Linked DNA regions of Homo sapiens: region 2 is linked to region 1. A link means that fine-mapping ties the variant in region 1 to the expression of a gene that starts in the linked region. Tissue or cell type: whole blood. Region 1 holds a variant in brackets; the other region holds the start of a gene. All regions are shown on one strand. Distances are from middle to middle.

What was found. PIP is the estimated chance that this variant, and not a neighbour inherited with it, causes the effect.
Region 2: it holds the start of EEPD1, and the variant in region 1 is fine-mapped to the expression of EEPD1 in whole blood (INTERVAL, PIP above 0.99).

What each region holds. Positions count from the first base shown.
Region 1 is chr7:36,286,479-36,289,092 of GRCh38, reverse strand. It overlaps EEPD1 (endonuclease/exonuclease/phosphatase family domain containing 1), which reads right to left. Exons shown (of 8, transcript NM_030636.3): 6 at 1,316-1,454. Among named protein-coding and RNA genes, the nearest start is that of MATCAP2, 79 kb to the left of the region's middle. The variant C/T (reference allele first, on the strand shown) is at 1,395.
Region 2 is chr7:36,151,748-36,154,365 of GRCh38, reverse strand. EEPD1 (endonuclease/exonuclease/phosphatase family domain containing 1) reads right to left here and starts at 1,112. Exons shown (of 8, transcript NM_030636.3): 1 at 692-1,112; 2 at 1-233. The coding sequence starts at 41. RefSeq lists a silencer at 981-1,700.

The DNA of each region.
Region 1 (2,614 bases):
AAATGTGAGCCTACAGTTTGACTGAAATATTTTTGTAGTAAAATCTTCATGAATCTCCCAATTTGAGGGGCCAGTTTAACGAGGAAGTCTTAGAAAGCTAGAGAATATTGGTCCAGACTCAAAAGATAGAAGAGAATTCCAAGCCTCCAACTACAAACTCACCTAGACAAGGTCAGTGTTCTGAAAAATCAAGCCAGATGGATAAGATCACAGTCTTCACAGCCTTGTCAACCTTTTCTTTTGGTAAACCAAGTGCAGAAAACCATCTATATTAGTTGGGGCATAGCCCCCCTTTGTCCTGGAGTTCAGCTCCTTTTTTTTTTTTTTTTAAGAGATGGGGTCTTGCTGTGTTGCCCAGACTGGAGTACAGTGGTGCGATCAAAGCTCACTGCAGCCTCGACTTCCTGGGCTCAAGTGATTCTCCCTCCTCAACCTCCTGAATATCTGGGACTACTGGTGTGTACCACCATGCCCGGCTAATTTTTTTCGTTCTTTGTAGAGACAGGGTCTCACTATGTTGCCCAAGCTGCTCTTGAACTCCTGGGCTCAAGTGATCCTCCCGCCTTGGCCTCCCAAAGTGCTGAGATTACAGGCATGAGCTACCGTGCCTAGCTAGAATTCTGCTCTTTTCAGTGTTCTCTTAATTCTTCTCATGTTTTAGAGTCAACTCGTGTACATGAAGTCCCTACTATGTGCTTGGTATTGCTGCAGACACTGTTACTTAGCCCTCTGGGTACTGCTATGAGATGAGTACTGTCCCCCATCAGATGGGGGCCTGAAGTGGTTTGGTGGCTTGCCTGAGGTCCTACAAGATTAAAATCCAGCATTTCTGACAGGTTCAGGGCTTCTTCAACATGCTCTGTATCCCGCCAGAGAGAAAAACTCAATTCACCAATCATCAGCAATTTACCACTTCCCCTTGTCACCCCCGTCTCTCTTTCACAGGAAGAGCACATGCAAATCTGCAGGCGGCACCACCGGAGTGATGCCCGAGGCAGCTGGTCCCAGGATGAGCTGTCTTCGGGGAAGGGCATCATCACTTATATTCTTCCCCCCTAATCCTTTCTATCTAAATGAGGCTAAAAAGCCACAGAGCTGACAGCTTGGAACGCATATGCTAGGTCCACAGAGGCACAGATGTGGCCGTGCAGGGTCAGCTGGGCTCCATGAGATGCCAGAGGTTTGACTGTCCCCTGTACCCGCGACTCACATTGCTGACAAACAGCCAGCCCAAGTGGTCAGAGATGGCTCAGAAGAGGCAGCCCTGCTGCTCTGCAAAACAGTGGCCGAGTCACAGCAAAAGACAATGTCCTACCTTTCAGGGTTTCCTGTAGGGTCTGTGCAAAGCTCGCCAACCGGTGGCCATCACTGTGATTCTTGCTGGGATTCTCGCT[C/T]CCCAGGAGGGTCAGGGCTGCCAGGTGAAGGTTAACAAGGGTCAGGTCGTGACTTCCCACCTAGGCAGCAGGAAACAAAGCAACAGGGAGAGGCTCAGAAGCTCATATTTCCTGTATCCGTTACAACCGACTCATAAATAGCTTTGTGCACAGAGTTGACAATGGTAAACAAGAACAAGGCTGGCTCACACCCCCAGGAAATAATGTAAGGTCTTTCATCTTCGATTTTTCCAAGGCACCTGCAGGAACAAGGCCTATTTTGTTCTACCAGTCCACCCCTAACATCCCACCGCCTACTCCTCACTTAGAGCCTAAAAGATTGGGCATATCTGCATATCTGTAAATGTTTGAGTTTTTTTCTTTCTTTCTAAGCAGTCCTATATAAGAAGGAGGTGGAAGGCCAGGCATGGTGGCTTATGCCTGTAACTCCAGCACTTTTTTTTTTTTTTTTTTTTTTTTTTTGAGAAGGAGTCTCACTCTGTCACCCAGGCTGGGGTGGAGTGGCATGATCTCAGCTCACTGTAACCTCTGCCTCCCGGGTTCAAGTGATTCTCCTGCCTCAGCCTCCCAAGTAGCTGGGATTATAGGTGTGTGCCACCATGCCCAGCTAATTTTTTTATTTTTAGTAGAGACTTCACCATGTTGTCCAGGCTGGTCTCAAGCTCCTGACCTCAAGTGATCCTCCTGCCCTCAAGTGATCCTCCTGCCTCAGCCTCCCAAAGTTCTGGGATTATAGGCATGAGCTACGTACCCGGCCACAACCCCAAGCACTTTGGAAGGCTGAGGTGGGAGGATCACTTGAGGCAATTTGAGACCAGCTTGGCCAACATAGTGAGACCCCATTTCAATCAATCAATCAAAGGAGGTGACTCTGACAGCTGGTTGTTATTATAGACTTGGGGCTTTTCTCCAGAGGGCCAGCCTGAGGTCTCCTGCCAGGACCCACCGCTGGGATGTGCCTCCTCCTCCTCCCTACACCTCCCACACACGCTCCTCTGTGTTCTTTTCTCTCTGGAGCCCACTATAGCCAGATGCTGACTTTAACCTAATTTCAAACGTGTCCAAACCAAAAGCTTACAGAACCTGGCCAGCCTAGGACATGCCCTAGCCCTGCATCCCCAAGGGCAAGTGCAGAAACACAGGGTCAGAGTTTGTCTCTGGGCATCACAGCACTGCTCAGCTGCTCAGGGCTTAGCAATCTTGCCCTTCCATTTGTCATG
Region 2 (2,618 bases), 130 kb after region 1:
TCCCTGGGGATGGAGCGGTGGCAGCCCAGGGTGCTCCCCATGGTCCGCCAGGATCAGGCTCCCGGGAAGGCCGCACCACTGCAGAAGAGCTCTCTGGCTAGGGAGGAAGCCCAGTAGGCCGTACAAGCACAGAAAAACGGAAGGTGCAGGATTCAGGGACTGAAGAGGTTACTATAGACAAACACCGAATCTTCCATGCCTGGCGTGTCCAAAATTACCTTTCACTTGGCCGCCTAGAAAATAAATCAATAAACATAGAAACCCATTGAATTAAGAAATTTGCATTAGCACCCCCTACCTAGTGCTAGAGTTAGTAACCAGGAGTCGGGGACTGGTGGCTGCCCGTGAACCCCTAAAAACGCAGGCACAATGAGGCTAGGCCCATGTGGATTCTCCTCTAGGGACGTCCGGGTTTTATCACACTGGAGTCCAAAAAGGCTACGAGCCGCTTCTCTTGGGAAGAGACCTATCCCCATCAGCCTCATGCCTCTCCTCCAGGCCTCTCTCAACTCTGACACTTGGGTCACCCACACTTGGGCTCGCGCAGACGGGGTGGCCACTCCACCTCCCCCACGCTCCGCATCTGACACAGCGCTACCTGCAACCTGGGAAGTCCGTGCTCCCCGGAGCGGGCACTGAGAAGGGGCTTATCGACCCCCCACCCGACCTGCCGCGGGTCCCCGCGCCCCACCTCTCGGCCGCTCTGCGGGGCGCCGGTTCCTCTTCCACCTGCGGCTCGGAAGCCTGAGCCCAGCCCGGGACAGCACGGGCCCCCTGCCTCCAGCCTAGGCGTCCGCGCGGGTGTGGGTCACTGGTCAGGCCCTGGAAGCCGACTACGCCGCTTCGGTCTGCGTGTCCCGGCTCTTTCTATGGGAGAAACTTAGCATCGCTCTCCCAGAGTGAATAGAAGCCGCAGGGCTGCTCGGAGGCGGCGGCAGCGGCGGCGAAACCCGCCGCCGAGGCTGCACCGGGGCTTGCGGCGGCGCCGCCGCAGTTGCGTTTACCCCGGCAAAAAGTCCTGCGCCCAACTCGGGCGGGGATCCGCCAGAGCCAGTCCAGACCCAGCACCAGCCGCACGGCTCCCGCTCGCAGTCGGTGTCAAAGCCAAAGTCCCGGCCGCGCCGCGCCGCGCCGCTCGCGCCTCCGCAGGCACCGCGGCCACGCCTCCTCCGCGCGGCAACTCCTCCCCGGGACTCCCGAGGGCACGTGGGGGAGGGGCCCTGGCGCGGGGCGAGGCCTGGCACCAGTGGGTGGAGAGAGGAACCCGAGAGCGCAAGGGCGGGCCTGGAGTGGGAGAGGCGGGGCCATGGAAGAGGGGGCGGCATCAAGGCTCAAGAGGGTGGAGAACGAACCAGAGAGCGCGAGGGGAGGCCCTGGCGTGCGAGAGGAGGAGCCATGGGTGTGGGGGCGTGGCCTGGCACAAATGGGTGGAGAGCAGAACCCTGGAGCGCGTGGGGCGGGCCTGGAGTGCGAGAGGCGGGGTCATAGAGTGTGGGAGCGGGGCCAGGGCGCGATGGGGTAGGAAAAGCGGGGGCGGGGCCATGAGCGCGGGGGTAGGCCCCGGGAGCGCAGAGGCGGGACTTAGGGGGCTTAAGGGGCGGAGCCGGCGCCGTGCCGGCGAGGGCGGGTCACAGGGAGGCTGTCCTAAGTCAGCTGCCCCCGGACCATGGTTGCCGCCCGGGGCCTAGGACTGGTTGTGCCTGGTAGAGGCTGTTTAGGATTGCCCGAGGCGAGATCTGCTCAGCTGCTTTTCGTCTGTCTTTGAGGTGTGGGGATGAAGGCCGGGGCAGTCCCTGAGAGTGCATCGCTGTAGGTCCAGGGTCTCACGGAATTTTGCAGAACGTTCCAGAGGAGACTGAATGGGATCGTCTTAATTTCTGTCCCCACTTTCGGCCTTTTCTTTTCTTCCACCAGTGTATTACCTTTGCTCCGCTCAGAGAGATGTCCTCTAATAACGCCAGCGACGCATTGTGCTCCTAGCAGAGGGCACGCACCACCCTCCTGTGTGTTCGCATAGGTCAAATACAGGTTTGCTCCTTTGCACATTTAGCGCTGTGAGTAAACAAGGATAAGTTTTTGTAATATTAAGTCTAATCATTACGAAGGAGGGAAATGGGGGCTGCTTCCCAAAACCCAGAAGAGTTTTTGCATCACACTGCTAAATGACAATTTGGTTAAAGATTAAAGAGCCCTCTGCATTATAGTGGATACCTAGAGCTAGAGTATTCGATTAAGCAAATCATGCGGTGATATCGTTGAATACTTTGACCCTGGACGTTTAGTGTTCTCTGAAGTTTCATCCCCAACCAATGTGACCAGTGCATCTGGTTTCAATTCCAAGGACTGGGTCAGCAAAAATAGTACCTCTCACAGGCGGAAGGTACTTTGGTTGTAAAATTAGCGGCAGCCCAAGTTTGGAAAATGCTACTGCCTTTCTGAGGCACATTCCCCTGCTATGTATATTGGTCAGAAAACCAAGTCAAACTAGCTTAGACCAAAAAAAAAAAAAAAAAGGTCGGGGGGAAATTTTTGGTTCCTTGTTGAAAAGTTAAGGTAAGGAATCTTACCTCAAGTCTGGTTGCATCCGACCCAAGTGATGATGGGGTCATTAGGACATG